Regions from separate parts of the Homo sapiens genome. Here region 1 is linked to region 2. Evidence: fine-mapped expression QTL. A gene starts in region 2. The other region holds a variant in brackets. All regions are shown on one strand. Distances are from middle to middle.

What was found.
Region 1: its variant is fine-mapped to the expression of PRR5L in whole blood (TOPMed, PIP above 0.99).

What each region holds. Positions count from the first base shown.
Region 1 is chr11:36,407,177-36,412,558 of GRCh38, reverse strand. All of the region lies in intron 3 of PRR5L (proline rich 5 like), which reads right to left. Among named protein-coding and RNA genes, the nearest start is that of TRAF6, 100 kb to the left of the region's middle. RefSeq lists an enhancer at 1,026-1,320. The variant G/A (reference allele first, on the strand shown) is at 3,261.
Region 2 is chr11:36,293,623-36,299,004 of GRCh38, reverse strand. It overlaps PRR5L (proline rich 5 like), which reads right to left and starts at 2,717. Exons shown (of 9, transcript NM_001160167.2): 1 at 2,567-2,717.

The sequences.
Region 1 (5,382 bases), 110 kb before region 2:
CGATTCCTAATACCTAGGCCATAAGCTCCTTTGAGGCTCAGGCCTAGAATCTGGCAGCCTTCCTTCCGCTTTTCCCACTCTATCCTAGGGTTGCTGCCCTGTCAACAGAAAAGCAATTACTTGTTAGAACAAACAATCATCATCATCATAACGAATAATAAACAAATTGCTCCTAGGATGGAACCCGGCATTTTTTTCTCCAATTAAAGTTTATTGAGCACTTGCTGGGTGCTGGACACCACTGTCAACAATGTAGGCGTTCCCACATTTAAGCCTAAAACAGAACTGTAAGCAGCAATAATATCCTCAATTTTAATATACAAGGAAACTGACCCAAGCAAGCACAGGCCAGAGATAACAAGTGTCTTGTTGAGATCAGGGAGCCCAGAGCTGCCTGGCTCTGCATCCTGGCAGCCACTTAGTAGCTGTTGTTAGCAATGACCCGGGAAAATTCACTGATTCTTCATACTTCAGTTTCCTCACCTAGAATGTGGGGAGGATAAGGATACCTACTTCACAGGATTACTGCACAAGTAAAATGGGTTAATCCTCATCAAATTGCTAGAACGCTGCCTGGCCCACAGCAAGGCTTGGCAAGCATGAGCTACTATGATTTCACCCAGGACTCTGAAGCCCTGGGTCTTGAAAACTCCAGCCCACTGCTTCTCGCATCTTCCTACAAGTATAGCCACACTAGCATTTCCTACACTGGGATTGAGGACCCAGGAGAAATTCATAAAGCAGGTAATATGTTAGGTAGGGCCAGACTAGCTGATGAAAGGATAAGAAGGTAGGAAGGTGGAGGCAGAGCTTTGGAGAAAAGAATTGCCGGGACGTGTAACTGACATGAAAGCAACCCCTCAGCCTCAGCAGCCCCCATATGCCATCTGTTTCACATATTGGACTTCCATGCCTGGTTTCATTTGAAAACAGAATTCTGCTGCTACCAACCACCACCACAAGCCACTGAGCTAGAAAAAGGGAAGCCGGGAGCTGAGGGTAATGTGAAGGGGACACTTACACGGGGCCTGACCAAAATGAGAAACTGGGCGTGAAGTTCAGCCAGAAGCCAAAAGGAGCCATAACAGGGGGAAAAAATGGGGAAGCACTGACTGGTCTACATTATCTCACCCTTTCTCCCTCCCAGGCTGACCAGCTGAGACACCACCCCAGTTGACAGGATTTCCTGTTATTACACAGACCTGCGATCTCACGCCTCACCGTCTTGTCAACTCAACTTCCCACTTCTGTGGGCTTAAAGGTAAAGGAGGCATTACTAAAAGCTGGAATCAAGCTGGTGGAGAGGCGCAGGGACAGCAGGATGGCAGCAGAGTGGGCAAGCGCGGAAGTGACAGAGGGAAATCACCTCGGATGGAGTCAGTCTGCCTTGCACACAGAGAAAGACCCAAGGTGGCAAAATCCCGCTGCTTGTCCCAACTCTCTTCCCACATGAGGTTAAAGACGATGAGGCAGCTTGCAAGAAGTGCTGCAGGTTAGCCAAGATGAGTTGGAATAACCATATCAGTAGTTAATATTTCTGCGCCATCTGGCAAGTAGGGTTTGCCCCAAGTTCTCTGGCCCTGCACCCTGGCCCTTTGGTGAGATCCGCCCAGACCGCCTCAAGATCCAGGAACAGCAGGGGTCCTCCAGAGTCCTGTGCCCAGTGCTGTAGCTGGTCAGTGCCCATCTAGCCTGACTGCTGAATGCTCTGAAATCACCCACCTCACTTCTGCAATAGGATATGTTTCAAGGAGGCAGCTTCTCTTAAGCAGGAACAGATAGAAAGGCCCCCTCCCCTTCTCTGGTCCATTCCATGGGAGCCCATGGGAGGTGGTGTCCTTGACTCAGGACATGGAGTACTCACACCCTTCGGGTGTCGGCATCCTAGTGGGTGGCAGTGGGAATAGTGAGAAACATGGAGGAAACTGACGAAGAGCATTTATTGAGCTCCTAGTTATGTGGCACACTATGCTCGGCAGTCTGCACACAGAATCTCAAATTCTCCAACAGCCTCACAGGTAGGAGTGTATCCTCATTTTGCAGATAAGATCGATGCTCAGAGCTTTGCCAGGGGCCATACATTGGTAGATCCCAACTCAAATGGAGGCCAACCTAATCAGGCAGTGGTACCCCCCATGCCACAGGGGCAGGCAGGCAAAGAAGGGAGGCAAGTGAGTGTGTACTGTAAGGACCAAGAAAGTCCCTCTAAAGCCAGCAGCCAGGCCTCAGCTCCCCTGACAGGCTCCACACCAGACCGTGAGTCCAGTGCCCAGATCTGACCTTTCCAGAGAGGCCGGAAACCTGGAGTTCTAGGTGAGATGTCCAGATTTCTAAACAACTTTTAGGCCAAACCACATGCGCCAACCCCATGGGTTTCCAATCTGCCATTTCTAACAACCCTTCTTAACCTGAAAGCCAAGTCTGTTTCTCAGCCACAGCAGGTACAAGGTAGTAACACATCATCAGGCAGAGTCACCCAGACCAAGAAGAGCCCTCATCTTAATCCCTCCAAAACTAGGCTCCTCAGAAGGGCAATGCCCCCCTTACCTCATGATCTATTCATGAACCTATGTCCAGGTACATCAAGCCCAAATCTGGATAATGCCAGCTCTGTGTGGCTCTTGCAGCCCACTTACTAAGGGTTTAAGCATGTGGGAGGCTTGGGTTCAAATCCCAGCTCAGGCACTTACTGGCTACATGACTCTGGGTGAGTTATTCCACCTCTCTGTATCTGTACTTCCTCCTTGTAAGACAGGGATACAGTATCTATCTCACAGGGTGTGGGGAGTTTTAAAAGAGTTGACACATATGAAGCACTTGGAACCTGGCATATACTAAAAGGCTAAGCAAGTGTCTGCAGTTATCATTACCTCGTGGCATCAGGCCTGGGACTGGTCTATGGCATCAGCCTGTGAGCTGGATCCAGGCTCACCTTCCTCCCGTCCCCTCCCAGCTCTTCCCCCCTACTGTGGGTCCCCCTCTCTTACAGTCAACACTCTGTTAAAGAGATGGAAAAATCGGAGGTGGATTTCCCTTTGGGTTTCAGGCAACCAACTGACTCAGAAGGAAGATATTTCAACTCAGACCTGTCAGAGATCAAACACAATTCTTGGAACCTCCTCTTTCCTTGAAAATCTCTGGGGTTTTCTTCACACCACCTCCCCCCTCCCAACAAGAACAGAAGCAGGGTGGTTGGAGAGAGAAGGAAAATGTGCGTTTCCTGTCTCAGGCCGGCTGCAGATAACTGATCTCTGGTTTCC[G/A]GAAACTTCATCTCTGAGCATTTATTTCTGCCGAGAAAAAGTCCTCCCAGGGAGTTTGAGGAGGCAGGAGGGCATGGAGTGAGTGGTGGTGGCAAGAACGTTAGATCCTCAACTGCCCTTTCTGCCTGCTCCCACTTCTGATTTCAACTTGGATATCATTTTCTCCTAGGTCTAATTGTGTGCCCATCCTCCACATGCCCCCAGCACTCCAGATTCCACCATCACCCCTCTAAAAGCGTTGCCTGAGAACTACCTGCCCAGTTCCTCTCTCATTCTGCTGTAAGATCTCCAAGACACAAACCACCTACTCAATGACCACCCCAGTATACAGCCCAGTACTGGGCAGAGCACTCCACATTTATTCAATAAATAAATCAATGAATCAATGGCCCCTGCTTCGACACACACACCCCAACACTCAAAGACTGAAAGCACTTATAAGAACATTGGCAAGCAGGTTCTTCAAAGAACCAGCAAACATCAGTCTTGCTTTTTTCACACTTTTCTAATTCTTCTCGGTTACATAAAATCAGTGGGAGAGGTGGCAGAAAAGACTGTTTAGGGAGAGTGTGCTCTTGTGTCAGCTTAGCTGCTCTTGTTCTTGGAAGGGCTCATGAAACCCAAACCTCTAACCCAGACTTTTCCTCGCTGCCAAAATGCAGCCACATCAGGGGTGAGGCTGGAGAGGGGTGTTAAAAACCGCACTAACACCCCATTGAGAATTCAAAACAAGAAGACTCCCAGAATCAGCCCGAACTCTGGCAGATGGAAATTTAGGGAAGCCAGAATTGTTGATTGGGATGCCTGGGGATTTAGCTAGAATACGTCTATTCTGAAAGGTCATTTTCTTGCCTTGAGAGATATTACAATGTGCAAGCTGTGCCTAAGGCAGTTTCAATGGGAAATATTCTGATTTATGGTTTTCATATCAATAGACCATGTGCCCTGACTTTTACATGGGACAACATTGGCCGCTATATTGAGGTGAGACGTTTCTGATGGATTTTTTTTTTTTTTGAGACAAATTCTCTCTCTGTCCCCCAGGCTGGAGTGCAGTGTGGCACGATCTTGGCTCACTGCAACCTCTGTCTCCCAGGTTCAAGCGATTCTCCTGCCTCAGCCTCCCAAAAATAGCTGGCTGGGATTACAGGCGCACACCACCACACCTGGCTAATTTTTGTATTTTTAGTAGAGTCAGGGTTTTGCCATGCTGGCCAGGCTGGTCTCAAACTCCTGACCTCAGGTGATCCACCTGCCTTGGCCTCTCAAAGTTCTGGGACTACGGGGTGAGCCACCGCACCTGGCCTGACAGATTTATTCTTAAAGGGTGGAGAAACCTGTCTTTGGATCCAATACTGTGTTTTAGAATTTGACCATCCTCAGTCCCAAGTTCTTCCTCATAATTACTTCAAAGTCTATCTGCTAACATTTAAACTAGAGTCTATTTTCAAAGACATGTCTTAAATGGAAAGGCCACTTATAATAATGACTGCATTACAAGACTCAGTTACATAAAACATCTACCTTCCTAGTCATCCTTTGCATTGGCTACTATTTAAATAAATTTGTATTTCCCAGGTACATACTAACCCTACAGATAGAAAGTGGCCAGGGTGGCTGGGATGAGTGACCCAAAGAATCTGATTTAGGCTTTGACTCCAGACTTGGATACTCCATCAAAAAGTTTATTACCATTTGGGTTCAGTAGAATGGAGAACTGAAAAAGTCATTTCCTCTTGTTCTTTTCTCTGTGGAAAGGAGAAACAGCTGGCTCTCCTTGTAAGAACTTAGCCTCACCCAAACTTCAACTCCAGGCACCACTCTTTGAGGATTCTGTCCCAGACTCTCTAGTTCAAAGTGAGCTCACCTCATCCAAACTGCTGGAGAAGTTTTTTCTGAGACAGGATCTTGCTCTGTTGCCCAGGCTGGAGTGCAGTATGCATCATCACGCCCAGCTTTTCATTTTATTTGTATTTTTTGTAGAAACTGGGGTTTCATTAAAGCTGGTCTCAAACACTTGGACTCAAGCGATCCTCCTGCCTCAGCCTCCCAAAGAGCTGGGATTACAGGTGGGAGCATGACACCTGGCCTGGAGAGGGTTATACACAGCACTATTCATGGG
Region 2 (5,382 bases):
CTGCATTTAGAAGCAGGACCTTTAAAAATGTGATTAAGTTAAAATGAACCCCTTAGGGTAGGCCTTAATCCTCTCTGACTGCTGTCCTTATAAGAAGAGGACATTTGCACATGCCAAGAGACACCAGGAATGCACACACAGAGGAAAGACCATGTGAGAACTCAGTGAGAAGGTGGCCATCCACAAGCCAAGGACAGAGACCTCAGGAGAAAACAAACCTTCCAACACCTTGATCTTGGACTTTTAACCTCCAGAACTGGGAGAAAATTAAGTTCTGTTGTTTAAGCCCGGGGCCCCCAACTCCCGGGCCATGGACCAGTACTGGTCTGTGGTCTGTTAGGAACCAGGCCACACAGCAGGGACAGAGAGAGCACGAAGCTTCATCCATATTTACAGCTGCTCCCAATCATTCACATTACCACCTGAGCTCCACCTCCTGTCAGATCAGCAGCAGCATTAGATTCTCATAGGAGCACAAACCCTATTGTGAACTGCGCATGTGAGGGGTCTAGTTTGCATGCTCCTTATGAGAATCTAATGCCTGATGATCTGTCACTGGTTCCCATCACCCCCATATGGGACTGTCTAATTGGAGGAAAACAAGTTTAGGGCTCCCACTGATTCTACACTGTGGTGAATTGTGTAATTATTTCATTATATATTACAATGTAATAATAATATAAATAAGGTTCTCAATAAATGTAATGCACTTGAATCATCCTGAAACCATCCCTACCCTGGTCTGTGGAAAAAAGTGTCATCTACAAAACTGGTCTCTGGTACCAAAAAAATTGGGGACTGCTGGTTTAAGCCCCTCAGTCTGTGATATTTTGTCATGGCAGTCCCAGCAAACTAATACGGCACTGCTTAGATGCCAGGGAACTAAGGAAGGAGTCTTATTAGGCAACCAGCTTCAAGGGACCAGCAACTCAGAGATCCCCAAAGATGAGAAATAATGGTGCTCTCTGAAGTATCCACAAGATTGTGCCTAGAGAGAAAGAACTAGGTTTACACACCCACCAGAACCTGCCACTGAAATGCCAGCTTGCCACAGCATTAACCAAGTACGGACTTCCAGCTCCTTTCCTGCCTCTTCTCTTTTCCCCTTCCCCCTGCCAGGAGTCAGAATCATCAGTAAGCCAGAGGAGAGAAGGATGGAAGCTTAACGTGGGAAATGAGAAGCCAACCACAGACCCCCTTTCCAAGCTGCAGGCCCCACTGGAGGAGGGAGAAAAGTCTCCACTGGGAACCAAATTCAAAGATCTGGCTGATTCCCTGGGACTGGACATCCCAATTGCTGAATGAGGCTGTGCTGGAACTAAAAGCGACTTAAGAACTTTTGATTCCTGAAGGGGGCCCATAAGAGTTGTGGACCTACCTTAATTTTCATCCCAGGGCAAGGGAAGAGGGAGGACCTGCTGAAAAAAATTAGGGACAATGATAGGCAAAAATAAAGTTTGCTTCCATAATATACCATGAGTCCTGTGTATTTGACGTATGTTCTCTTACATATGAGGCAACTTAGCCTGGTCTCTGGCCAAAAAAGAGATACCACTCATTGAGCAATTCTTACCCTTTCAAATTCCTTCACTGTCGTCATTGAGCAATTCCATCTTCTTCAAGCAAGACAAAAGCTGATGCCAATAGAAAAATCATTTAAAATAAACAAACGAAAAAATTCCTTAAGCTGTCAACTTGGGTGCAGATGTTCTATGAAGCCAGAAACTGAATGTCACCCTCTATACACCATGACCTAGAGAAGCAGAATAACTCCAGACCAGCAGGGCTGGGCGGGTCTAAGATTCCCATACTACTTAAGAGAAAACTGAATTCAAATCCAGGCTCTGCCATTTAACAACTGTGTGACCCCGGGTGAATGACTTAAATTATCCGTACTTCAATTTCCTCATCCATAAAATAGAGATCATAAAGTATCTATCTGATGAAATAGCTGCAAAACAGTTAGAATGCTGCCTGGCACAGGGCAAAGGACTCACAATACACATAGCTATCATCATATATCATTGCCTCTCAAAGTGAAATATTGTGATGACCTTGGTTTATTAGCAGGATGTTGTAAAAAAAAATGCTTTACAAGGGGCATGATGACGAAAAGCGCAGATTCTAGAACCCGACTCCCTGGGTTTGAAAGAAGCAAGAATCTGAGGCATGTTGTATAAGGGTTTGCTATCATTACTATTCATTCAATGAGAGACATACAGTAATAGGTATACATATGCAATACATAGAGAAAGAGCTTAGTACTAGCAGCTATTATTAAGGCAACAGCCACCTCAGTAAATCTACATGGGCCATGAAGACCCTGGTCACCCAGAGATATCAGAGGCACTGAACAGGGCCAGACAGACAGAGGGTATTTTTCTAACTGGGAGGCTGCTGAACTTGACCTCTGTTGCTTTTCATTATTTATTTAACAGCAGATGGTGGCTTTCAAGAAAATCGGATGTCTTGAAGCCAGAAACCCATCCTCCTTGGGCTGGATACTCAGCCATCCCCTGCAACCCCACCCCCTAGCCCCAAGCTCTCATTGTCTCTCTTGTGTTACCTGGTCTGGTTTCTTCTTCCAGGGCAGGTCCCACCTTGCTGGGGAGAGGTGAATGACCATGGCCTTCCAGCCTCCCGAGAAGGGGATGTTCCAACGGGCGCAGAGATCTCTGGGCCTGGCTTGCCACTCACTGACCTGGGGCCTGAAGACTGACAGAGAAGCAGGCAGAAAATATAAAAAGCTGATACCCCCTGCAGGAAATCATTGTTTAGCCCATTCCAGACTAAAAAAACAAGTGCAACATTGGAGAAAGGAGGGTAAAGTGTCATTCGGGGCCATTGTTACAGCGGCTGCTCTGTGTGGTGGGGAAACAAAGCAGGCCTGTGTATGTGAGGACAATGCTGTTGTGTTACTAGCTGCTTCTGTGTTACTCCTGGGGACAGGAGGATGAGAAACGAGGCCACAGTGTCTTCCCTGGTGGACTTCACTCATCATAGTAGCCAGGCCAATCAGAGCTGGGAGAGGAATTTTGGACATTTAGCCCATGGCATTATGTAATAAGGGTCAGGGGACGTGCCTTCAGGTGTGACCACCTGCCTCTTTGTTAGTCTTCTATACATGAGAGATCACAAATGTCCCTCTCCTTTTCTCTTACTTGCTTTCAGAAACTTACCCCAAGTTAGAGCTGAAAAGAATGAGACATATCATTTCTCTAAACACAAATGTCATCCACTTCAATGCCTAACTTTTGTGATGGGACATCTGGCTGGGACTAAACCTCAGCCATGCAGCACGTTAGCAGCAGTTGGCAAGACTAGATGAATATTATAAAGCTTGCACCCACTGAACCCCCATAATGAACCAGACACTAGGTCATGAGCAACCTTGCAAAATGACCTCATTCGCTCCTGACTTCAAATTCTGACTCTGCAACTATTACCCATGGACTGTGAGCAAGTGTTTTCTCTGGGTGTTAGTTTTCCCATCTGTAAACCGGGATTATGATTGGGTTCCTAGGAGGATTAAATGAATTAATATATGCAAAACTCTTAGAACAGTGGCTGGCCCATAAAAGTGATCAAGAACCACAAATCACAAATTAGATGCCCACATTACACCTGAAACTTGCTTGTACTCATGAGGAGATGGTATGGGGATGGCTGGAAAGCCAGGATCCCAAGTGTCTGTATTTAGCCCTGTTACCTACTATGGCCTAAGTTCACCCTGTTAGGTCCCTGAAGGAATTGGGCACTAATAAATATTCTCAAGTATGAGACAGGTGACAAATGTGTGGAGAGGGCCCACTGTGATGCAACAGTGTGTGGCGGGAACTGTGGGGATTTGAAAGCTCACACCAGTCTTCAGAGGGCAGCCAGGGCTCAGCCTCAGCCAAATACTGCAATGCAGAAAGGTGGAAACAGCATGGTTGGGCCTGCACATTTTTAAAGAAAAGCCAGAAGGCTGGATTTTTTATGTCGAGTTTTCCAATTTTGAAACACTGTGGACCAAACACAACATTGTTAATGCAATGTGAGCCCTAGATCATGCAGTTTGTGATGCCTGATCTGGAAATTTCCAGATTTCCAGCATTTCCAAGCCAGTGCAACCCTGCTGACACTCAGAGCTTTTGTCCCCAACTTGCGCTACGGTCTGAGTGTATGCGTCCCCCACAAATTCATATGCTGAAATCTTCACCCCCAGGTGATGGTATTTGGAGGTGGGACCTATGGGGGGTGATTAGGTCATGAGTGTGGAGCCCTCATGAATGGGATTAGTGCCCTTATAAAGAGGCCCAAGAGAGCTCCCTTGCCCACAGCCACCATTTGAGGACACAGTGAGAAGACACCATCTGTGAACCAGGAAACCGTCCTCATCAAACATAGAATCTGCCAATGCCTTGGTCTTGGACTTCCCAGCCTCCAGAACTATGAGCAACACATTTCTGTTGTTGATAAAGCCACCCAGTTTATGGTATTTTGTTATATTAGCCCATATGGACTAAGACGACTGGTGAGCTGATCAGGCCACGTCAAAGCCACAAAGGGGGCATAAAGTCAAAAAGATTGATCAGCCCTTTCCCCCTGCAACCCACCCTCATCTCTGGACTGAGACAAAGGTGAGGAAAAGGGAAACTAGGGGAATAACAGGAGGGTGGCAAGGGCTCTCCTTAAAGGACTGCAGGACCCTGGGCCTAATCCACCTCCTGCAGGCATTCCTCTGACAAAGAAGGCAGCCAGGACTTAGTAGTGAAACCAAAGGGGAGAATAGGAGTTTATTTAAGCTTCCATAACCTTCATCAGTTACCTCAAATGAACCAAAGTAGCGTAAGTGACAAAATGTGTTTGCTATGCAAATGCACCTTAAAAACAAGACTGCTCACAATGAGATACCACTTCATACCCGCTAAGATTGCTATAATCAAAAAGACAGAACCAGTTACAAAATGTGTTTGATATACCAATGCAACTTCAAAACAAGACGGCTCACAATGAGATACTACTTCATACCCACTAGGATCACTATAATCAAAAAGGCAGAGCCAGATGCAGTGGCTCCCATCTGTAATCCCAGCTACTCAGAAGGCTGAGGCAGGAGGATCGTTTGAGGCCAGGAGTTTGAGACCAGCCTGAGCAACATAGCAAACATATGTTTTAGAGACAAAACATATTTTTTGTCTCTAAAACAAATAAAATCAAATTAGCTGGGTATGGTTGTGCATGCTTGTAGTCCCAGCTACTCAGGAGGCTGAAGTGGGAAGATCAGTTGAGCCCAGGAGTTTGAGGCTACAGTGAGCCATGATTACACCACTGTACTCCAGCCTGGGTAAAAGAGCAGAGACCCCCATCTCTCTGTCTCTTTTTTTTTTTAAACAAATG